Linked DNA regions of Homo sapiens: regions 1, 2, 4, 5 and 6 are each reported to be linked to region 3. Evidence: microRNA targets listed by miRTarBase, many of them from high-throughput screens and not tested one by one. Region 3 holds a microRNA gene; each other region holds the end of a gene's coding sequence.
What was found. The annotated mature microRNA hsa-miR-1-3p reads UGGAAUGUAAAGAAGUAUGUAU and lies in region 3 at 1,743-1,764, shown strand. An mRNA with a match to its seed (bases 2 to 7 or 8) in the 3' UTR can be bound and repressed. Matches are read on the target gene's strand: a 7mer-m8 pairs with bases 2 to 8, a 7mer-A1 pairs with bases 2 to 7 and ends in A, and an 8mer does both.

Region 1 (4,092 bases), not on the chromosome of region 3:
TAGCTGGGCATGGTGGCGGGCGCCTGTAGTCCCAGCTACTCGGGAGGCTGAGGCAGGAGAATGGCATGAACCTGGGAGGCGGAGGTTGCAGTGAGCTGAGATCATGCCACTGCACTGCAGCCTGGGTAACAGAGCGAGACTCCATCTCAAAAAAAAAAAAAAAAAAAAAAAAAGAAAGAAAGAAAAAGAGACCAGCCTGTGTTAACATAGCAAGACCCCATTTCAAAAAACAAAATTATATTGAGTACTTCCTACTAGCAGTAGTGGTGGGAGAGGAGGCTGGTTCAAATAACCTTGTCTACCATTATTGAAATGGAAGTCCTTATGATTCTATTTTCATGAATGTTTTGTTCTTGTAGCCAAAGTAGCAATCAGTGGAGGTTTCCAGAAACTTGAGAACCTAAAGCTTTCAATCAATCACAAGATTACAGAGGAAGGATACAGAAATTTCTTTCAAGCACTGGACAACATGCCAAACTTGCAGGAGTTGGACATCTCCAGGCATTTCACAGAGTGTATCAAAGCTCAGGCCACAACAGTCAAGTCTTTGAGTCAATGTGTGTTACGACTACCAAGGCTCATTAGACTGAACATGTTAAGTTGGCTCTTGGATGCAGATGATATTGCATTGCTTAATGTCATGAAAGAAAGACATCCTCAATCTAAGTACTTAACTATTCTCCAGAAATGGATACTGCCGTTCTCTCCAATCATTCAGAAATAAAAGATTCAGCTAAAAACTGCTGAATCAATAATTTGTCTTGGGGCATATTGAGGATGTAAAAAAAGTTGTTGATTAATGCTAAAAACCAAATTATCCAAAATTATTTTATTAAATATTGCATACAAAAGAAAATGTGTAAGGCTTGCTAAAAAACAAAACAAAACAAAACACAGTCCTGCATACTCACCACCAAGCTCAAGAAATAAATCATCACCAATACCTTTGAGGTCCCTGAGTAATCCACCCCAGCTAAAGGCAAACCCTTCAATCAAGTTTATACAGCAAACCCTCCATTGTCCATGGTCAACAGGGAAGGGGTTGGGGACAGGTCTGCCAATCTATCTAAAAGCCACAATATGGAAGAAGTATTCAATTTATATAATAAATGGCTAACTTAACGGTTGAATCACTTTCATACATGGATGAAACGGGTTTAACACAGGATCCACATGAATCTTCTGTGGGCCAAGAGATGTTCCTTAATCCTTGTAGAACCTGTTTTCTATATTGAACTAGCTTTGGTACAGTAGAGTTAACTTACTTTCCATTTATCCACTGCCAATATAAAGAGGAAACAGGGGTTAGGGAAAAATGACTTCATTCCAGAGGCTTCTCAGAGTTCAACATATGCTATAATTTAGAATTTTCTTATGAATCCACTCTACTTGGGTAGAAAATATTTTATCTCTAGTGATTGCATATTATTTCCATATCATAGTATTTCATAGTATTATATTTGATATGAGTGTCTATATCAATGTCAGTGTCCAGAATTTCGTTCCTACCAGTTAAGTAGTTTTCTGAACGGCCAGAAGACCATTCGAAATTCATGATACTACTATAAGTTGGTAAACAACCATACTTTTATCCTCATTTTTATTCTCACTAAGAAAAAAGTCAACTCCCCTCCCCTTGCCCAAGTATGAAATATAGGGACAGTATGTATGGTGTGGTCTCATTTGTTTAGAAAACCACTTATGACTGGGTGCGGTGGCTCACACCTGTAATCCCAGCACTTTGGGAGGCTGAGGCGGGCGAATCATTTGAGGTGAGGAATTCGAGACCAGCCTGGCCAGCATGGTGAAACCCCATCTCTACTAAAAATACAAAAATTAGCCAGGTGTGGTGGCACATGCCTGTAGTCCCAGCCACTAGGGCGGCTGAGACGCAAGACTTGCTTGAACCCGGGAGGCAGAGGTTGCAGTGAGCCAAGATGGCGCCACTGCATTCCAGCCTGGGCAACAGAGCAAGACCCTGTCTGTCTCAAAACAAAAAACAAAACCACTTATATTGCTAGCTACATTAAGAATTTCTGAATATGTTACTGAGCTTGCTTGTGGTAACCATTTATAATATCAGAAAGTATATGTACACCAAAACATGTTGAACATCCATGTTGTACAACTGAAATATAAATAATTTTGTCAATTATACCTAAATAAAACTGGAAAAAAATTTCTGGAAGTTTATATCTAAAAATGTTAATAGTGCGTACCTCTAGGAAGTGGGCCTGGAAGCCATTCTTACTTTTCAGTCTCTCCCATTCTGTACTGTTTTTTGTTTTACTTTCGTGCCTGCATTATTTTTCTATTTAAAACAAAAATAAATCTAGTTTAGCACTAAAATATTAACTGGAGCTACCTCTGGAGGGCAAGAGTACTAGAAGGTGGGATGGATTGTCTTCTTGCTTGTCTGATTTTATATGTAATACCTTTGTAATTAGAAAGGTTGTTAAGCATTATATCAGAATCCAGTCAGGAGACAGAAACCACACAGAAATTTGAATGGGGAAAGTTTAATATACAGATGCTCGGCCTGACGCAGTGGCTCACGCCTGTAATTCCAGCACTTTGGGAGGCCGAGGTGGGCAGATCACTTGAGGTCAGGAGTTCGAGACCAGCCTGGCCAACATGGTGAAATCCTGTCTCTACTAAAAATACAAAAAAAAATTAAAAAAAAAAAAAAAGCCAGGCATGGTGGTGTGCACCTGTAGTCTCAGCTACTTGGGAGGCTGAGGCAGGAGAATTGCTTGAACCCAGGAGGCAGAGGTTGCAGTGAGCCAAGATCGTGCCACTGCATTCCAGCCTGGGTGACAGAGCAAGACTCCATTTCAAATAAATAAATAAATAAATAAAATAAGATGCTCCTCAACTTACAACAGGGTTATATCCTGAAAAACCCATTGTAAGTAGAAAATATTGTATGTCAGAAATGCATTTAATATACCTAAACTACCAAACATCATCGCTTAACCTGACCTACCTTAAACACGCTGAGAACACTTATATTAGCTTACAGTTGGGCAAAATCATAAACACAAAGCCTATTTTATAATAAAGTATTGAAAATCTCACGCAATTTATTGAATACTGTACAGAAAGTGAAAAATAGAGGTCGTATGAGTACTTGAGGAACAGTTTCTACTGAATGCGGATCACTTTTGCACCATTGCAAAGTAGAAAAATCCTAAGTCAAGTCATCATGAGTTGGGGACTGTCCGTAAGAGTTATTAACAGAGGATTGGAATGGGGATTGGGTAGTAAGGAATAAAGAGAAGCCTGGGCAGATGCAGGGAACAGCCGATATGGGCTTTTCACCCCAGGCTGAGACAGAACAACTCAAAGAAGAAAGCTCAGGGCTGAGATCCGGGCTGAGATCCAGACTTCGTGTGAGAGGACACAGCTGTGAAAGACAGAGGTTTGCTGAGGCTGTGGAGTTGCAGCTGGAGAAGGTGCTGGGCTTGGGGCACTTTGCAGAGAAGGGACCTTGTGCATGTCAAGGGAAGCCATTCATGTGGGGGTACTGTGCGCTGCTGACCATTGGGTGCTGCTGAAGTTAGGCACCGCCCAAGAAGTGTGCAGCCAGAACGAGGTGCTGCAGAGGCAGAGTGTATGTGCTACAGGAGCTGGTATTGCAGATGGCACAGGTGTTGCAGGTGTCTGCCTAGAGGAGCACAATGGAACCAGGAAAAGCAGCCCTTGCCCCTTCAGTGTGTCAGCAGCACCCTCGATTGACAAAGTTTCACTCTGTGCTTACTGTCATGGGAGAGGTATTTACAGGGCCCAGATCTATTATTACAGAACAGACAATGAAGACTGAATGTGGATATAAGAGGCAACAACTAGCATAACTCATTAAATCTAATAGTGCACACATAAACACAAAATAACCTAGTAATTTCTTAATATTGACTGACAGGATATATGCACGTGATGTATTTATAAATTCATGGAAAACTTATATAAAAAACAGGCAACCATAATTGAGTTTAGGGAGGAGAACAGGATGGCTGGTGGACAGAAAAGGGAGAGAGGGAAGTTTGCTTTTTTTCTCCTGCATACCCTTTTATACCAGTTGAGTTTTGTCCC
Region 2 (4,092 bases), not on the chromosome of region 3:
ATTAAGTTCAGGGATTTTCACTTTACTTAAGATCTGGGTTTGCTTAAAGAAAATAATTTAGCAACTATTTTTGAGGATGTCCACTATGACTTTTATATTTAAGCTCTGTAAATGTGTAGATCCTTGTCTGAAGCTGATTTTGCTGAGAATTTCTTTAGACATTATTTTGTGTATTTGTCAAGTTTATAAATGTCTTTATTTTTTTACTTTAAATTTTAACAATTACCATTAACCATATACACCAAAAAGGATTTCTATGGCCCATTAGACTGTCTTTCACAGATAATACTTTTGAATGTCAGTGCTTTACAGGGAGAAGTGAAGCCAGTACTACAGAAGTTAGGTCAAGATGAAGACATGGATGTCAAATACTTTGCACAGGAAGCTATAAGTGGTATGTATTTCCTTCTTTTGCCTTGCAGCTTATGCCTTGGTTAACTGGGATTTATCTCTATTATGTGAGAGGTGTTAAGTGGGTAGGATGATAAGTATTATGGGAAACAGGGAGGGTAGTAAGTTCCTGGAATGCTGGTGTCTCTCTGATTAGAACCCTCTTGGCCCACCATTTTCTCATAAGTGAGCAGGCTATTTTTCTTAGTTACATGTAGGACTGGGTAGGAAATACGATTCTCACTGGTAAGAATAGTTTTTCGTTTGGAATTTAACCAGTTTTTAAAGTTTCACTTCTGATTAGCCTGGCTGAGTAAAGACAGTAACCACAGTGAGAAGTTGTTAGTTTGATACGTTTGGATCATTGTTATTGTGCTTAATATTCACATAGATCGTTCGTGAACTTTCTGTACCACTAACCTGATTTTGTTTGGAATTTTCCAGTTCTTGCATTGGCATAATGAGGAGCAGGAGGGAAAAGGCCTTTACTAGATTCTTGTCACAAATTTCTAGTCAATGTGTTCTTAACTGGGTGGAGAAAGAATGGAAAACCTTCAAGATCTCATCCAAGCAAATGGCAACAACTTAGAAGAAATCATTTAGTGACTTAATTCTTTCTAAAGATGAAATGGGATTGTTTTTTACTCGTCTTCCTTGTTAAATCATTATTTAAGCCGTTCTTATTGACCAATTCCTGACACTTGATTGTCTCCTAATGCTTTATCCATCACCACCTGGGCTCCTGCATCCTCACTGTGGAATCAGGCACCAGCCACATAATGTTCCAGACAAAGCCTGGAAGGGTGTGGACCCAGACGTGGAGTGGAGTGATTCTCTTGACGTTTACATATATCTCTGTGTCTCTCCATCATTCCAAAGCTAAATGTACATGTTTAGAATAACTTATTTTATAAACTCTTCGGGAGACATGTTGAGATTTGACCGTAATGAAAGCCACATTTTCCTGAATTATGATGGTCTGCATTAGTCTCATGTGAAAGGGGAATGTGGAAGCTCAGGGTTAATGTAGTGGTTGTTTTGGTTTTTATTTGCTCAATTTTGTCTGTACTCATGTCATTCAGAAACCTGAAGTGTGGCTGCATCTTGCTGCTAATGTGTGATGTTGACGCCTAACTGAATTTGAACAGCTCACCACTGTGCCTACATTTAAAAATACTTCTCTCTCTTTTCTAAAAAGCTTTAACTGTAGTGCCTCCTAATAAGCAGTATGTTTGTTTCATTGTGAGATTGCAGTTCTGTATTTCGAATGAGTCTAAGAACCACAGGGATAATACTGTGCAGATTTCCTGTTCTTTACCTGGCTCTGCTTCCAGCAGTATTGACACCTAGTCCTTGCTGCATTGTACAGTAGCTTTTCAAACTGCAGTTTTATTGCTAAGTTTTTAGTATGGGTGATACTGGAGTCTTATCATTTGAAGTGTTTGCTTTTCTACTTTTACAGTAAAACCTCATTAATTCTGAAATTTAAGATAATGAGTTAAGCTGAAGAGTTTACTGAAGCAAATTAATAGTGAGGAAGCCTATTTGAACTACTTAAACAGTATTAAAGCCCTTTTTAAAAAGCACCTATTTGGGATCATTTGAGGTCAAGAATTCGAGATCAGCCTGACCAACATGGTGAAACCCCATCTCTACTAAAAATACAAAAAAGTTAGCTGGGCGTGGTGGCACACACCTGTAGTCCCAGCTACTCAGGAGGCTGAGGCAGGAGAATTGCTTGAACCTGGGAGGTAGAGGTTGCACTGAGCCGAGATCGCGCCACTGCACTCTAGCCTGGGCCATAGAGCGAGAGTCCATCTCAAAAAAAAACAACTATTTTTCACATAATCAAACTCACCTTGTCTCATGACTTTTGGTTAAGGGGGTTTTCCCATAGTTTATTTTTCTCTCAGTGCATCTTGCTATGAGGTTTGCTTGTTACCCTTTTGGTTTTTGAATTGTTGATTTTGTTCACAACCTCTTTTAAATCTAACAAGTCCTGTTCTGTTTAGTGAAGGCCCAAAGACTCCTCTAAGACTTTGTATATTTGTTACATAAAACCAAGTTTTACTAAATACTTTAAAATTTGTCCTACATTCGAAAAATAGAAATTGTAAATCAGAGGTTATCTGTCTGCATTTTAAACTGCCAAATTACCTTATAGTAAGTTTCTATTTTATGACTTTGGGCCAAGAATTAAGTATTTTCCTAAGCACAAATCTTTTTCTATATTCTCATTTTAATATCTTATGCTATTATTCTGTAAACATTTTAATTTTAGTTTCATGAGTCTTTATTTTTTGTTACCTGCAAGTTATGTTCTTCTTCATTGAATTTCATATTTGAGAGACATTTGTCTTCATGAAGCAGATTTGCACTGGAACCATTGCTTTACTCTGGTTGGAAATGCCATTGTTTTGGGGACAGACTTTTAAAATGCCCTTGTGTCTCCCAGTGAGGAGCCCTAAGCATTGACTTCTCTACCCTAAAACTGTTTGAGAGAGGGAGAGTGGGCCCTGGCTTTCTCAAGCATGGGTCGGGGGTTCAGCGGGGCCTCTGTCTTTTGTGGTGACCCCTCAGGGGTTTCATTGTTTCCTTCTGACTTAAGCAATAGAGAGAGAATTTGTTTTGGTACTCTTCAGAGGAATTGTGCTTTGGCTCATAACTTGGCCATGTTCTCCATGAATTAGTTCTCCTATTTTTTTTTTTAACTACCTTAAACTTAAGGGAAAAGTTCTCCTATCTTGATTTCACTGGAATATAGGCTTTAGGAGCTCTGTAAGGCTGGTATTTTTGTCTGTTTTATCTTCTACTGTATCGCCAGTGCCTGGAACAGTGTCTGGTGCACATAATAGGTGCTCAATAAAAATGTGTTCAATGGATGAATTTCTAAAATATCCTCCAATGTGTGCATGGAACAAATAATCAAAAGAACCAGACTGTGTCTTATTCTCCCACTGACAGAAAGATTTTCCTGCTTTCAGGAAACAAGCTTTATGTGGCCCTTTTCTGGTCCCCTGGCTTAGACTACAGTTCTGTGTGGATTTGTCTGATTGCTTCAGACATGTAATGTTGTTTTTCATCCTTGGCAGCTTACATCAGTTGTTTGTTTGATTAGAAAAATGAAGCAGACACACACACACACACACACACACACACACACACACACACACAAACATATAACCTATGCCAATAAAAATGTCTCAGCAACAGTGGAATTCACCTTGGTGTTTCTCTCTGTAATTTGTGTGGGGTTTACCCCTCACAGGTTTAAGAGACCAGGTCTTGTTTCTCTCTCTGTGCTACCAAGAAGATGTGAACCTGAGGATGCATCTTGTTTCATAAGAAGGAAGGCAGGTGAATATGTGGTTTCTAACGAGGTCTTGTTGAAATAACGGGCTGCCCTCAGCTCACAGAAATACCACAGCTCAGCCACTGTGATGCAGAGCCCCAGGGGTCTTTGCCAGACAACTTGTCCTGACTCAACAGAGACGGCAGCCTGACCTTTGAGCTGGCTTGTCCAGGCATTCAGGTTGCTTGCGTAGACTTCCAGGGAAGCAAGCCTGTCCTTCCTGACCCGGCGGTTAACCTGGTGCACTTTTGTTCCTTTGTTAACTGTTGTGTTGTCACTAAACTGAAAGGCTGGGGCTTGCCCTTAGACGTCACATTGGCTCTGTCCCTGTGGCGATGGCAGGGCAGGGT
Region 3 (4,092 bases):
ACTGATACATCCCCTTCCTTCACCGGGCTCATGAAAAGAAATGCTGAATCAGCAAATAGAGTGAACGAACAATCAAGATGAGATGGCTGCTGTTGATGTGATTCTCTAGGTTACTACCTTTCTTCCTGCTGCAAATGCTGCATGACACTAAGCTTACAGGTAACAGAGCACCATAAGGCCTGTACTTTTAAGGATGCTTATGACTTTCTGCATGCTTACCTATTATTGACTCAATATATGTTCTCATTGTTAAATTAAATTCTATCTAACCATAGCCTAATTTCACAATTCAAGTTAAGAGCTAATGTAGTGTAAAAAGGAATATTGTTCAGATACTATGGCAGTAACTTTTTATCTTAAAAATGTACAAATACATTATTGTCATTTACATTATTAAAGATTTAGTCATTATTGTTTCAGATTAAGTGATGATTTTGCATCTCTAGTAAGTCACATCCTGCTTCCAAAGTATACTTATTTTCTAAAACTATTAGCTTCTATTTCAAGGTTTAGTCAACCAAGAAACTTGGCAGATCATAAAATACTTTTTAATGCTTACTAATAATTGGCCACAAAAATAAATCAGAACGTGCATGGTGTAATTCTAATGCTGCATTGCTGAAACTGCTGTAGTGCTGGGCTATCTACTGCTACATTCTGATTTGCTCTCTATAAGCTGCACTAGCTTTTTATCACAAGCTGCAGAAATTCTACTATCCCTGCCCTTTTTTTTCCTCCTTTGACAAATCTGAAAATTTCTTGAGGTTTTAAATTAACCTTCTAATACCACAATAACTGAAGGCTACTTACCAACTATAATTTCTTTTCATTCTAAACTATCAAGGTAAATAAAACCCAGGTGCTCACAGACTAAAACCTTTCAGTTCTTTGAAGTGATACTTTCTAAAAGTTGACGATTCTGACAGTTATCCTTTATACTAAAAAGATTAAAGAATCAAAACAACTTAAACTCACCAAAATTAGATATTTCTACATCTATTTGAATTTGTATTCAACTCATATTTGTATTTAACCCAAAGAGAAGCATCAAAGTGCAAACTTCAGGTAAGGAACTAATAAAGAAAAAAGAATGACAAATTTTCAAATGATCACGAGTTCTTATCTGTGACCTTATAAAACACTAACAAAAATTCATAATCTTTAAAAAAGTTCAATTCACCCACACTCATCCTGGTTTTTCTCCTTGTTGTTTCAACTTCTAGAGTCAATATCAGAAATACTTATTGGTTAATTTGTTAGGTTTTGAGTAAGATATCTAGTTTGTAAAAAAAAAATTGAATTTAATTAATTACTATCTACCTGTAGGATCTAGAAGCAGACTACAAAAAAAGAAGAAATTCACTCTGAAGACTGAAGAAACACTAGGCTGATCTTAAGTTTCCGAAATACACTCTGTAACACTACACTGATTCTTTGAATCTCTTGCAAAAAGAATCAAACCAGGACAAAGTTCAACAGATAACTGGTCAAATGCTTAGGAATGTCTATGTCCACCAAGAATATGGAACCATTAATGCCATGCTTCAGGTAAACTTGTTACAAAATTTAGTCTTCGATAAATTAGTCTCTGCAAATGATTTACCATTGCTCTACATTAGTAAGCTGAATGTTTCACTAACAAATAAGAAAATAAAATATTTCATGTTTTTACAGCTAACAACTTAGTAATACCTACTCAGAGTACATACTTCTTTATGTACCCATATGAACATACAATGCTATGGAATGTAAAGAAGTATGTATTTTTGGTAGGCAATAAACCACCAAGGGAGAATTAAACTGAGCTAAAAGAAGCTCTTGCTTCTTTCTACGTGAATGACCGTCATATGGTAAATTAACCTAGTCATGAACAGATGACCTTTGGCAATACTAACACCAAAAAAAAAAGGTTATCTACTACTGATAGATAGAAACTATCCCTAAGGTTTTTATTTCATGAAGGAAAAGAAGATCCAGTGAAGTAGATTTCAATTATCATGAAACTCCTTTTAAATCATCTAAGTTTAAAACAGACATCTTACATTTTTAAATTAGGCACTCTCATTATTAAAATTTGACTGCAAAAGGGAAAATAGTATTACTAGCACAAAAGAATGAGGAATACACATGACCTATTTTCTGTCTCCACAATTTAATCTTAAGTATATCTCATTAGTAGGGCTCACTGATTTGTACAGAAAAATAAGATACTAAGAGCTGGCTTCATTCACATAATAAGCTATTTCTTCTCATTTTGATAAATGTATAATTAATATTAGAGGAATTTCTGACCAAAAGTTTTGTTGTTTTAAAAAGGCTTTCTTTTTTGACAGCTACAAACATAGTGGCCCTTGTCCTTCCTTCTCAAGTTTATCAGGGTCTTAACCCAAATCTCTACTTTAAATGTGAAGTTAAAACTTAAAATTAATTAAAATGTAAGATTTAAGCATGAAAAATGACAAAATTCTGGTCCACAGCTGTAAGTCAGCAGGGTATATTGGTAACAGACTACCAAATATTTAAAAGAAATTAATTTATCTGTATTATCTTCGAATTTGCTTTCTCCAAAGAGGGCATGTAAAATGAAAGCACTATAGTCAAGAACCAATTTATACAGATCGAAGAACTGTTTTTATTGTACTATGCAATTACAATTCAATTTCTCTAAACTTGATCAATCCATTGTTTAGAAATATCAAAATACTTTTATTTCACACAGTTTGTATATTATTTATAAAAAATTCCAAATAATGCTCTTAGCAAAATTTATAAGCAGTACCTGTTTTAAGCTACTAATGACAAAGTTAGAAAATAAGAGTAATATTCACATATTCTAACCATTTCTTACTAAAAGTATTATTTCAACTGAAATATTTACACATGTATAAAAGCATAATATTTTAAATTTTTTGTATCAGAAATTGAATGGAAATGACTAAGTTTAACTATAGTTCATTTTCTGTTTAATAAGACTAGTTAATACAAAGATGATTTTCATTTTATCAGATTATAAAGAATGAGAATGACTTACACATGGCATCATATGTGTTACTGCATGTTTACTGGAAATTATAAAAGGCACATAATTTTAAAATTCTACACTTTCAAAGAAATTAGTTCAAAGCTTAACTCACATAAGCATAGCCCTTCTGATCATCCACAAAACAGAATGGCAATGATTCATGTTCTATTTGGTAAGTTTACCTGTATAGGTCCTAAATACCAAGAACTCAAAATATATACCTCAAAAGTAGAGGTTCTTCTATAAAAATACTCAAAGCTTATTACTCTACTTGTGTTTTATAATAAACAGTTATATTGGTCATTCTATAGGTATACAAGTTGTTTAATAATCCTTCTCAAACATCCTAGCAACTAAGACTCTCTTTGCTATAATATTAAGACTATATAAATAATCCTTAGAAAATAAAATGACAGGCTATTCATTTTTAAAAGTAAAATTATATGCTGATTCTGGTGCTTGCGAGTTTAACTTATCTAAGAGTATTTTCAATCACTCTAAAATGTCACATCTATCACTTAGATCAGCTGTTCATTTTTAACTGAGTACATATTAAACTCTGGGCATCTGCTGACACTGGTATAACTCAAACATTTCAACTGTCTCCCTGACAGGGATAACAGATGCTGACATTATCAAATGCTGTACTATTTTTTTCCCATGGCCTCTCCTTGCCCCGATATGGCCAGTATATGAAACTGAACTGCCATCCAAAAACACACTTGAGCAACTGGATCTGCTAAACAGCTCCCATATAACTAGTAAAAATAGAAGCCAGTATTATTGCTATCTTCAGCACTTAAGTTTAGGCAGTTTAACACCTGTTTCACTTCTACTAGAAAAAATGATGAAAAAGAATTGTAGTTAATTTCACCAGCAGTATGATACTTACCAACCAACAGACGCAGAATATACTTAGTGTAAGAGTCATTTGCATACTGCCTGAATTAGCGTTGACCTCTCAGTTTAAAATAGTAACTGTAAAGAATATTTCTCTACTCTATATTTCTCTGAGAGCACTTAACTTTATAGGCAAATTATAATTTATCAAACTTTTATTTTATGCAAGA
Region 4 (4,092 bases), not on the chromosome of region 3:
CTCACTGCAACCTCCACCTCCTGGGTTCAAGGAATTCTCCTGCCTTAGCCTCCCCAGTAGCTGGAATTACAGGCACCCGTCATCATGCCCGGCTAAATTTCTTTTTTGTATTTTTGTAGAGACGGGTTTTCACCATGTTGGCCAGGCTGGTCTTGAACTCCTGACCTCAGAAGACCCGCCTGCCTCGGCCTCCAAAAGTGCTGGGATTGCAGGCGTGAGCCACCAGTCCAGGCCAAATTTTTCTATTCTACTGGATATATTTACATTTCACTAGACAGAAGAATATATATTTCTGATAATCCGAGATTTTTCAAAGGTGTCCTGGTCACCATATTTATTTTTGAGATGGGGTCTTGCTCCCTCAGTTAGGCTGACTGCAGCGGTGCGATATTGGCTTACTGCAACCTCTGCCTCCCAGGTTCAACGGATTCTCCTGTCTCAGACTCCCGAGTAGCTGGGATTACAGGCAAGCGCTACCATGCCCGGCTAATTTTTGTATTTTTAGTGAAGGGTTTTCATCAGGTTGGCCAGGCTTGTCTCAAACTCCTGACCTCAAGTGATCTGCCAGCCTCGGCCTCCCTAAGTGTTAGGATTACAGGCCTGAGCCTCGGCGCCCGGCGCTGACCACCATATTTAAAATTGCAATTCCATCCCCCTTCTCTGGTACTCCCTATTCCTGATTTTTCTCCAAATTCCTTCTCAAAATTTGACATACATGGATTTTACTTACTTGTTTACTGTTTGTCTCCCTTCACTAAGATGTTTCACAAGAGCAGGAATTTTTGTCTGTATACCTAACTTATATTTCATTGTAAGGACTCAGGAAGTATTTGCTAGATGAATGATTAATGTATAGTCAGGAGAAATTGTATCCTTTAAATTGTATCCTTTAAAATTCAAAGATGAAGACAAAACACATTGTTCTCCATTCCCACCTCCAGTTTATTATTTCTTATGTAAACATGTAAGATAGTTACATCCCAGGAAAAAGGGCAAGTGTTTTTCTCTGACAACGAAGTAACAACTACCTTTTCAAGATCTTTTATATGTAAATGGAGTAAATGAAGAGGCTGAACTCAAACACTTTTCATTTTTCTGTCATATCAGAAACATAAACTAAATGTGAATATGTTAAATGAATAAATTCTATACTTTGTCATACCTGAACTTTAAAAAAAGATTCCATTTTCCTGAAAATTTTTAGACATATCATGCAAACAGACACTCTCCTAGGAATGTTTGGAGATCATTCCGTGCTACTGAACAGGAATAAATAATATAAATAATAACCATCACTTTCACAAAACACCCCTCCCCCAGCAAAAATCTCAAAGTGCTCACAAAAAATTTTACAACAATCTTACAAGGCACACATAAAACTTAAACATAGTTTCAACCAATTTTTTTTCAAATATCCAAGATAGTAGATACTAATTCTTAAAAAATCAGAGTACTATTCTTTTACCCTCTCCTCCCATCTCCATCCTTCCCCCTTCCCCCCACGCCATTTTATAATAGGAAGCAAAAATAAGAAAAGTACTTCAATCACTAGTAAACTATTTCTGAAAAGAAAATATTTTCACACCAACAAATGGCCAATCTTAGGTCAAATGGAAGCAATGAACTATGAATGAAAAATTAGCAATGAGCTATCACACTTTCCAGTGGAAAAAGATCCACTAATTAGAAAAATTATGTCTCCAATGGAGTACTTAAGTAACAAAGTTCATAAAGACACAAAACCGTCCTCTCTTGCTTTCCCCTCTTCTGTTCTCAGGAAGAATTAAATACAAAATCATGGAATTTTAGACCTGGAAATGATCTTTCAAATGACCAAGATCAAAGTTATTTTACATATAAAGTTAAAAAGTTCAAGGAGAAATTCAGCACAATGTCGCTAACTAGTAACATTGGGTTATGAAGTCGGTTTTTTCATCAAACGAGACCTGCATTCTTGAAAGTCTCAAGGAAAGTTAAAATTCAGTGGAGAATGTCTTTCCCACAAAATTGTCAAAAAAAGGTTAACACTTATAACAACGAACATGTGATTCATTCATCACACAATTTTTATAAATGGTACAAAGTATATTACATTTTAAAATACAGAAGGGCTTCAATAGAAATTAAATACAGTAGAAATTCTACATAAAGCTAAGTTAACTAGAGGAGGACTAGAACAGCTTCAAAGAAAGATGCATCTAGTCAGTCTTCTTTACGAAAAGCAGTTCCTGTGTTTTAGAGAATATTATTTGCCCTGCAGTATATTTTAATCTTTGTTAAAATAATTTATAAAAGTTTTGTGTTATATGTAGACGGAGATGTTAGAGAACTATGGCTCAGAACACCATCTCAAATATGACTCTCGCTAAAATAATCATACAGTCATAGTTTTCCTTTTGGCATATTTTTGGAAATATAAAACTCTAGGGATGGTTAAGATTTTTATCAACACATAGTGAATGGAAATTACATTAATGTAAATGAAAAAATACAACACTAATAGCTACACCTTTTTAAATTGCTCATCTAGTAACAGCTAGAATATATATTGCCAATTCAAAATTTAAAATGACATGGATGAACCTCAAAGTCATTATGCTGGGTGAAAAAGCATTTCAAGAGGGAACGTACTATAAGATTCTGTTTATATGACAGTCCAGAAAAGGCAAAATAATAGTGACGGAGAACTGTTGCCAGGATTAGAGCTAGAAGGAGCTGACTACAAAGGGACAGCATAAGAGAGCTATTGGGAGTGAAGGAACTGTTCTGTACCGACTGCAGTAGTGGTGCACAAATCTTTCTGTTAAAATTCACAGAACTATACACCAAGAAGAAATTTCAATTTTACTTCATGTTAAATAAAAAATAAAATAGAGAGGAACTTTTAAAACAGTAGAACAGATATCCCTGGTAAAGGTAGAATTTCTCATTTTTCACAGCTTCATGCCAATGGTATAATTTTACTGGCCACAAAATTATTAAATCCGATTGTATTAAATAAAATCAAGAAACTCGGGCCCAATGAACCATTTCTTAAGTATGTATACTAATAAGGCATGGAAATAAAAGTATTTTAAGGATTATTAACCCTGTATAAAAAAATTCTGCTATTCCCAAGTGAATCTGAATTGTTACTTTATACATTTTAAAATGAAAAGTATCTTGGTGTTTAGTTTGGAATCCAAGAACAGCTGGTAAAAAGTTAAAAAAAAATTTTTTTAGTGCCATCTGTTCTAAAGTGACTAGAAACAGGTAATAGTGTTTTTACCTTTATTTTCTCTTCTTGTTATCCTAATTCATTAAAGTTTTTATATGATTGGATTTTATACTTAAATCAATTACCTAGAGACTCCAAATCGGAATCTGCAAATACTGCTGGATCCTTTGTCACTAGAATCAAGAATATATAAGAGAGGAACACTATTTCTCTAGGGATACTACTGAGACTTATATGTAAGGTATGAGATGAGACAGAATCCCATCAGCTTTACTGTGCCTCCCATAACTTTGGAACTGTTAGAAGTTCAGAAAGAATGATTATGTGTAAGCCGACAAAATATAAGAAACAAAGATTGGGGGGATGAAATATTACAAATGCTGCATCTCTACAGAAAGACTTGCGTAATAGAATAATACAAACTTTATATAACAAGTCTGTGATTATAATTATAGTAGACTTTGCCTTTTGAGATCAGGCCTAGATAGTTTTTCACCACTGCTTCTGCCATGGACAGAGGTTAAGTGCTTTTTGAGAGCAGACTTGTGCTTGAAATCCATATCACAACAGTGGCATTTGTATGGCCGATCCCCACTGTGTATGTTCAAGTGGTCCTGAAGTGTGCTTTTGGCAGTAAATGTCTTCAAGCACACAGTACACTGAAAGGGCCGTATGCCCATGTGTCCTCGGATGTGTCGGTTGAGATTTTTCTTCTGTGTAAATGTTTTTCCGCACTGTAAGCATAAGAATAGTTTATGCATTTTAAGGTGGCGCAGATAGTTTTCAACATGAAGAAAGCCTCGAGGACACCTGGGGCACTGGTGCCTCAGTGAATAACCTTCCTCCAGATTCTGAATCTCACTCACTGTACCATA
Region 5 (4,092 bases), not on the chromosome of region 3:
TCAGTTAGCCAAGATCGCACCACGGCACTCCAGCCTGGGTGACGGAGTGAGACTCTGTCTCAAGAAAAAAAAAAACACCAAACAAACAAAAAACACTTGCACTACTACCTAGTGCTGCTGACTTAAGATTTCTGGGAAAGTCTGTGCATAATTTTGCATGGATAGAGTTAATCTTTAATTACAAGGAGGCAGATTTATGAAGCATTCTTAGAGTCTTACACATACAAATTTTACTTGTTTCATGAGTATCTTGTTTACATATTTCTTTCCTCAGAAAAAATCTCGCAAGAAGATGTGTATCCTGGTGCTTGTCCTGTCAGTGATTATTCTAATCTTGGGACTTATTATCTGGCTAGTTTATAAAACGAAGTGATTGCCTCCGATCGTTCTCCCGCTGAGCTGTTTTCAAGGGCAAGTGCTTGTTGAAGTCTTGCCAGAACAAACTGATCACAAGAAGACAGCATATATCAGAACGTCCTGTAATCATTTAGTTAGAAACTAACTACTAACTAGTCTTTGGAATTCGTGACCTATGGAGACAGTAATTATCAATTTATTGATTCTATTGATTTCTCAAATTAGGAATTAACTTATGTGGATTTTGCTTCCTCTTGTATTCTGATTGCCCTTCATCCCAAGTGTTTACTGAAAATTCCATTCTAGATATTCTTGTTTTGACAAATGACACTACAGTCTCGTAATATTGTCTTTTATGTATATACAAAATTTACCTTTTTACTAGCATCTGAGATAGAGTTACTTTCTGGTACCCAGTATATTGGAGTCTGTCAGAAACTCTATAATAGGCCACCAGTTTTTATTATTTAACATTTTTATTTGAATTTCTAAGAAGCCTATTCTCTATCTATTTTGAAAGATTTTGGCACTATATTTAATTGGAAGGTAAAATATTGTACATGTGATCCAGAGTAAATGAGAAGTCTCTATCTGAGCTGGTCAGTTACTGGAGTACATGTTACTAATCTGGGTTTAAAGTTTACTTCATTATCTGCTAGTGTCATCCACAGCAGTTCATCCTCATCCACACTAAGCCATCCTGTTAGCTTTTAAAGGAAGTTAATTTAATTAACATTAATATACTCTATGGGCTCCCTCTCCCACCTGTCTGCATAGAAAGGCAGAATTAGACATAGCATGCTTTGGAAAAGCAAATAGGAATTGTTGGGAATGATTTAATCTTGTTGTTGTTGTTGTTGTTGTTCACTTGTGGTTCTACATTCCTGGTGAATGATGAATGTTGCTGTCAAAGGGCTGCCCCCTACCTTATAAGGGTTGCTGGGCATTTGAAGGCAGGAAGATTTTTAAAGATAGATTGAGGTTGGTTTAAAATTATTCCTGTAAACCAACAATAAAGCAAAGAAGAGGTTCATTTTTGTAAATAACACTGGTTTCAAATAGTGATGTTAGACTTAACCTAATTTATAAACAAGAGATTAATATCTCCATGCATAGTTTTAGACAAAAAAAGATGTTTCAATAAAATTACTGTCTTGTAATATAAATGTTGTCCACTTCCCTTTTCCACAGGCCTAGAACAGTTAAAGGGAACATAATTTGTTTAGGCTCCCACATAAATGTGAATCTGGCCAACAACTTTGGTTCATCCTTTAGTGAATTAGAGGATTTGGCTACCCTGAGTATATTTATATTCATTTCTTCTGTTCTCCTTCTGTTATTATACTTAATCTTCTAAACTAAACTAATGTGAACAGTAGGGAAGCAAGGGCCCAAATGCATAAGTTTCTTTGCACTGTTGCACTTACTTAATACAAATAAATGTTTTTTAAAGCTTTTGTAGTATGTTTTTATGAGTTAACATCCTAATGTGGTAGGTATTAGGTAATGTGCTGTCATGAGAAAAATTGAGACTTCCAAGAAAACTGGACACCAGGTGAGGGTTGGTTTGGAGACGGAATAGGTGTAGCTGCCTTTCCTTGAAAAACAGTGTGTAGAGATGGCTGAGTGCAATGGCTCACACTTGTAATCCCAACACTTTGGAAGGCTGAGGCGGGAGGATCAGTATATCGGTACGTCTGAGCCCAAGAGTTCAAGATCAGCCTGGGCAGTATAGCAAGACCCCATCTCCATTTTTTTTTTAATGATTTTTTAATTAAAAAAAAGAACAACAGGATAGAGCTGTTGGGGTGGCACAGTGGCCCAAAGAGCAGCTTCAGAGATAATTCCTTGGTTCTATGATCCCTGTTTAACTCCAAATTACAGTCGGACTTGGATACATCATTTGTAACATTGTAGGAAAGAAAAAAGTCTTGGTTGTGAAAAACGATTTGCATTTGGGTAAAATAAAGTGACCATGCTTTTGTTCTGTAATACTGTGTGACCTGTGGTTGTTGTAATGGTGATCATGGAGAGCAAATATGAACTTGGCCTGGATTTTAAATGGCCTAGAATTTGTGGTAGTTGCCAAAGAGGTTCTCCTAGGTGGTCTTAATAAACCTATTCACAGAATTCTCCTTATCTGTGCCTTGATTATCATTGGGAGCATCACAATCTAGGACAGCAGTTTTTAACATGGCTTCACATTAGAAACTAAAAAAATACAGTGCCCACTTTGGCAGCACGTATATAAAATGGGAACAATAGAGAGAAGATTAGCATGGCCCCTGCACCAGGATGACTTGCAAATTCATGAATTCTCTCTCTCTGTCTCTCTCTCTGTGTGTATGTATATATATACTTTTTTTTTTTTTTTTTTTTTTGAGACAGGGTTTCACGCTGTCGCCCAGGCTGGAGTGCCGTGGCACAATCTCAGCTCACTGCAACCTCCACCTCCTGGGTTCAAGCAATTCTCATGCTTCAGCCTCCCAAGTATCTGGGATTACAGGTGCTCACCACAATGCCTGACTCATTTTTTAAAATATATTTTTAGTAGAGATGGGGTTGTACCATGTTAGCCAGGCTGGTCTGGAACTCCTGACCTCAAGTGATCCGCCCACCTCGGCTTCCCAAAGTGCTGCAATTACAGGCCTGAGCCACTGGCGCCTGGCCGAAGTGCTCTATATTTTTAAAAAAATATTCTCTGTGCTCCTCTTCTTGCTAAAAAATAAAAAATAAATACTGATACCTCAGTCCCACAACTCCAAGATTTTAATTTAGTCTGGAGTATATATAGCTTGGGCATAGGGATTTTTAAAGGCCCCAGGTAATTCTTACCTGTAACTGTGGTTGAGAAGCATTGGTTTGGATGTCAGAAACTAGACTGGGGTACAAAAGACCTTAGCTGTGCCGTTAACTTGCTGAGGGTATTTGAAAAAGTCACTTATGGCTGGGCGCGGTGGCTCATGCCTGTAATCCCAGCACTTTGGGAGGCTGAGGCGGGTGGATCACGAGGTCAGAAGTTAAAGACCAGTCTGGCCAACATGGTGAAACCCCATCTCTACTAAAAATACAAAAATTAGCCAGGCATAGTGGCACACACCTGTAATCCCAGCTACTTGGGAGGCTGAGGCAAGAGAATTGCTTGAACCCAGGAGGTGGAGGTTGCAGTAAGCCAAGATCATGCCACTGCACTCTAGGTCTGGGCAACAGAGCAAGACTCTTGTCTCGGGGGAAAAAAGAAAAAGTAACTTAACCTTTAGGCCCCAAGTTTTCTTGGTAGCTCTTTTCCAGCTACGAAATTTTCTGATTATAAGGACCCACGGCAGTTTAGTGTGAACATACAAATTGTATTTTTACCTCTATCTTCCTTTCATTTTCTCATCTCCTTTTCTTTTTTTTTTTTTTTTTTTTTTTTTTTTTGAGATGGAGTCTCGCTCTGTTGCCCAAGCTGGAGTGCAGTGGCGTGACTCGGCTCACTGCAAGCTCCACCTCCTGGGTTCACGCCATTCTCCTGCCTCAGCCTCCCGAGTAGCTGGGACTACAGGCGTCCGCCACCATGCCCAGCTAATTTTTTGTATTTTTAGTAGAGGCAGGGTTTCACCGTGTTTGTTAGGATGGTCTTGATCTCCTGGCCTCGTGATCCACCTGCCTCGGCTTCCCAAAGTGCTGGGATTACAGGCGTGAGCCATCATCCCCTTTTCTACTTCCTTTATGAAATATCCTAGCAGTACTGGG
Region 6 (4,092 bases), not on the chromosome of region 3:
AGTCTGTGGGAGTCAGTAAAGTGAGGAAGTGAGACTTTAAGGATCGGCAAAGTTGGGGGTGGGAGGATGGAAGAGTGTCTTAGGTGTAAGGACCACCATGTTGAGTGAAAAGGCAGAGTGGAGCAAGATGAGGTTGGAACACTGCTAGGTCAGTGCTCAAAGGCCCTTAAGGAAGCCTCTTTCCGTTTACAACATTGGGAAGTCACTTACACATTTTAACATTTTTTTTTTCTTTTTGTGGACAACAGGATCTCCCTATATTGCCCAGGTAGGTCTTGAACTTCTGAGCTAAAGCTATCCTCCTGCCTCTGCCTCCCTAAATACTGGGATTACAGGAATGACCCACTGTGCCTGGCCATTTAAATTTTTTTTTTTTGAAATTTTATTTTTTGAGACAGAGTCTCACTGTGTCACCCAGGCTGGAGTGCAGTGGCATGATCTCGGCTCACTGCAACCTCCGCCTCCCAGGTTTACTTTCACTGAAAAATCTGCATGAGGCCTGGCGTGGTGGCTCACGCCTGTAATCCCAGCACTTTGGGAGGCCCAGGCGGGTGGATCATGAGGTCAGGAGTTCAAGACCAGCCTGGCCAACATGGTGTAACCCGGGAGTTCAAGACCAGCCTAGCTGACATAGTGAAACCCCGTCTCTACGAAAAATACAAAAATTAGCCGGGCGTGGTGGCGGGTGCCTGTAATTCCAATTACTCAGGAGGCTGAGGCAGGAAAATTGCTTGAACCCAGGAGACAAAGGTTGCAGTGAGCTAGGATCATGCAACTGCACTCCAGCCTGGGCAAAAGAGTCTCTCACAAAAAAAAAAAAAAGAAAAAAAGAAAAAAAAATTCTGCATGTAAGTGGACCCTAAAGTTCAAACCCATGTGTTCAAGGGACAACTGTAATTTCATCTTTTAATTATTTGCATTTGGCTACTCAAAAAAGAAATTGAAATAAAATACTTAGGCCAGGCACTGTGGCTTCACACCTGAATCCCAGGTAGCACTTTGGGAGGCTGAGATGATGCAGATCATTTGAGGCCAAGAGTGGGAGACCAGCCTGGCCAACAGCCTGAGAACCCCATCTCAGGTACATTGTCATGGGCCTTTGGTGCCAGCTACTCAGGGGAGTGAGGTGGGAAGATCACTTGGACCAATATACATATACACACATATTTTATTGGACAGTGCTGCTCTAGATGAGCAAAGTACAGGCTGTATCACTCATCATGTATGGTCAGCTCCTAAAATAACTGTAGACACACAGGAAGCTTTTGCGTCCACACTGCCTTAGAAGGTCATGAACATTTTTAATAAGATTGATTTAAAAAGGCAGAGCTTAATTGAAAAATGTTGATGATCACGAAATGAAGGATCCATAGTGTCATTTCCTTAGAAGGCTTAGATTTGTCACTGAAACACGGTGAAAAGCCATTTTGCCATAGAATTTCTGTGCTCTGGGAAAATGAAAGGTTTATTAAAGTACATTAAAAATCTTACAATCTGGCTAGGTGAAGTGGATCACACCTGTAACCCCATCACTTTGGGAGCCCTGAGGTGGGAGGATTGCTTGAGGCCAGGAATTCAAGACCAACCTGGGCAACGTAACAAGACCTTGTCTTTATAAAAAATTAAAAACAAGCTAGGTGTGTTGGTGAGCACCTGTGGTCCCAGGTACTCAAGAGGCTGAGGTGGGAGGACTGCTTGAGCCTGGGGGAGCCTGCTGCAATGCACTGCACTCCAGCCTAGGACAGAAAGCAAAAAAAAAGAAAACACCCCATTACTTCATTTTCATGTATAAAAAAAATACCTAATGAGCAAGTTGGCAAGACTTAATTCCAGCTTTTAAAATAAGGCTGTCAATCTTATTCCTGTAGTCTTCCCTGATTGTAATGTGCTCTCATTCTGTGATGTTTTCCAAAGGATTTTTCAAAGGAAAGCCAAACCTTATTACTTTGCTGTAACTGAAGTAAATTAACTTCAAGTTTTGCAGGCCCCCCCCACCCCTTGGCTCCAGATTTATGTTCAATCTAGTAACAAAACATTTTCTAGGCTGGCTGCAGTGGCTCACGCCTATAATCCCGGCACTTTGGGAGGCTGAGGAGGGTGGATCACCTGAGGTCAGGAGTTCAGGACCAGCCTGGCCAACATGGTAAAACCCCACCTCTACTAAAAATACAAAAATTAGCTGGGTGCGGTGGTACGCCTGTAATCCCAGTTACATGGGAGGTGGAGGTGGGAGAATTGCTTGAACCTGGGGGGCAGAGGCTCTGGCAGTGAGCCGAGATTGTGCCACTGCACCCAGTTTAGGCAACAGAGCAAGATCCTGTCTCAAAAAAACAAACAAAAAAAATTTCTAATATTTTAATATTTTATAGTCTATGCTGGAGAAGACTTCAAAGGGATAATGAGCAAAAAGCATGCAAAGAACTTGTTATAAGGCACTTTATTAAAATAAAAGTGCTTACATCCCTTTAATGCATTAATCTATCTCCTGAATAACACATGTAATATTTGACAAATACTGAATACCAAGTCTGTCCCTTATAATAGGAAAACATACTATTTTAGTAAGTTTTCTCCTTCCACCTTTTACATTTTTGCTCACCACGGTATTGACTGTAGTATAGTTAACTGGCCTTAAAAAGGGTGGTGGGGAGGGGATTTCTAGCTAGTGTTTTCTAACAGCAATTGCCAAATGCTACAGAAACTATAAAACAAATTCAAAGAAACATCCCAGGTAACTTAAATTAACACCAGTTTTGAGAAAACCATTTTTATTATCATTACCACCCAGCTTATCTGTGCTGGATTATGTACCAAATGGCCAGATCTTCTAAAGAACATCTACATAACATTTCTTTCATGTTTCAAGAGATGAAAATAACTGTACAAGGTTAAGTACAAAAGTACACAAGACAGCGGACACGAAAAAATCCATGTATGAGATTTTATCCCCACCTGCAGCTTTTATATATTTGAAAAGTAGAATTCATGAACTAAAAAATATTATCCTTCTATAGTCCTGTCAAGTTTAATGGAAGTGGGTTTAACCTGATTACAACACTAACACCAGTATCACTGATCTGATATTTACAAAAATTTGTATTTTTCAATAAATTAAAGTCAATGCAACACCCATGCAAGCTAGAGTGCTAGCTGTTTGGTGAACAAGGACGTGACATCAGAACAAGAAGTCTATAAGTCCCAAACTTTACAAGTGTGATCATTTTCAAACTGCATCCATTCCTCGCATTGAAGATGTGAAACCCAAACCCATTCCTCTTTGTGTGTGGGTTTGTGATCTTGCCATTTCATACTGAGCATCTAAATTTCGAAATACTTCTTCCTGCTGCTTCAGAGTCTTGTAACTTTCTTCATCAACTGAGCTACATCCAGCTTCATCTTCACTCTAAAAATCAGACATAAAACATTACAATGAATTCAGATGGAGATAAATATTCTCTCACTTGACACTATTTTTTATGTATTTTTTTTTTTTGAGATGGAGTCTTGCTCTGTTGTCCCGTCTGGAGTGCAGTGGTGCCATCTCGGCTCACTGCAACCTCTGCCTCCTGGGTTTAAGTAATTCTTATGCCTCAGCCTCCCAAATAGCTGGGATTAGAGGCACATGCCACCACGCCCAGCTAATTTTTGTATTTTCAGTAGAGACGGGGTTTCACCACATTGGTCAGGCTGGTCTCGAACTCCTGACCTCAGGGATCCCCCCTGCCGCCTGCCCCCCGGCCTCCCGAAGTGTTGGGATTACAGGTGTGAACTAGGCTGACACTATTAAATTATACTTTTGGCCGGGTGCAGTGTGGCTCACGCCTGTAATCCCAGCACTTTGGGAGGCTGAGACGGGTGGATCACCTGAGGTCAGGATTTCGAGACTAGCCTGGCCAACATGGTGAAACCCCGTCTATACTAAAAACAAAAAACAAACAAACAAAAATATACTTTTGGGATATGTATTTGATCTCAATAACTTAATTTCCATTCATTATTGAACACCTCCAAAGGACAAGGCAATGTTCTTTCTAGGTCTGGAATATAGCAGGGTGTAACAAAAGTTAACTTCAGTTTAGTAGGTTGGAAAAA

Region 1: the mRNA of NAIP is a reported target of hsa-miR-1-3p. Seed matches in the 3' UTR shown: 7mer-A1 at 1,323-1,329 and 7mer-A1 at 1,950-1,956.
Region 2: the mRNA of PPP2R1B is a reported target of hsa-miR-1-3p. Seed matches in the 3' UTR shown: 7mer-A1 at 1,260-1,266.
Region 4: miRTarBase lists ZBTB6 as a target of hsa-miR-1-3p. Seed matches in the 3' UTR shown: 7mer-m8 at 1,233-1,239.
Region 5: the mRNA of STX12 is a reported target of hsa-miR-1-3p. Seed matches in the 3' UTR shown: 7mer-m8 at 1,236-1,242.
Region 6: the mRNA of RSRC2 is a reported target of hsa-miR-1-3p. The part of its 3' UTR that is shown has no 7-base or 8-base seed match.

Annotation. Positions count from the first base shown.
Region 1 is chr5:70,966,736-70,970,827 of GRCh38, reverse strand. It overlaps NAIP (NLR family apoptosis inhibitory protein), which reads left to right. Exons shown (of 17, transcript NM_004536.3): 17 at 360-2,662. The coding sequence ends at 724. Among named protein-coding and RNA genes, the nearest start is that of SMN1-AS1, 36 kb to the right of the region's middle.
Region 2 is chr11:111,738,355-111,742,446 of GRCh38, reverse strand. PPP2R1B (protein phosphatase 2 scaffold subunit Abeta) reads left to right here. Exons shown (of 15, transcript NM_002716.5): 14 at 303-394; 15 at 835-4,092. The coding sequence ends at 851. Among named protein-coding and RNA genes, the nearest start is that of PPP2R1B, 26 kb to the left of the region's middle.
Region 3 is chr18:21,826,687-21,830,778 of GRCh38, reverse strand. It overlaps MIR1-2 (microRNA 1-2), which reads left to right and starts at 1,691; the gene lies at 1,691-1,775. The region is part of intron 12 of MIB1 (MIB E3 ubiquitin protein ligase 1); the gene reads right to left. MIR133A1HG (MIR133A1 host gene) reads left to right here. Exons shown (of 3, transcript NR_110369.1): 2 at 1-159; 3 at 1,327-4,092.
Region 4 is chr9:122,907,132-122,911,223 of GRCh38, forward strand. ZBTB6 (zinc finger and BTB domain containing 6) reads right to left here. Exons shown (of 2, transcript NM_006626.6): 2 at 925-4,092. The coding sequence ends at 3,667. Among named protein-coding and RNA genes, the nearest start is that of RC3H2, 3.8 kb to the left of the region's middle.
Region 5 is chr1:27,821,957-27,826,048 of GRCh38, forward strand. STX12 (syntaxin 12) reads left to right here. Exons shown (of 9, transcript NM_177424.3): 9 at 275-2,487. The coding sequence ends at 373. It also overlaps the pseudogene RNU6-1245P. Among named protein-coding and RNA genes, the nearest start is that of PPP1R8, 6.8 kb to the right of the region's middle.
Region 6 is chr12:122,502,304-122,506,395 of GRCh38, forward strand. RSRC2 (arginine and serine rich coiled-coil 2) reads right to left here. Exons shown (of 10, transcript NM_023012.6): 10 at 1,151-3,403. The coding sequence ends at 3,224. Among named protein-coding and RNA genes, the nearest start is that of ZCCHC8, 3.4 kb to the left of the region's middle. RefSeq lists a silencer at 1,766-1,966.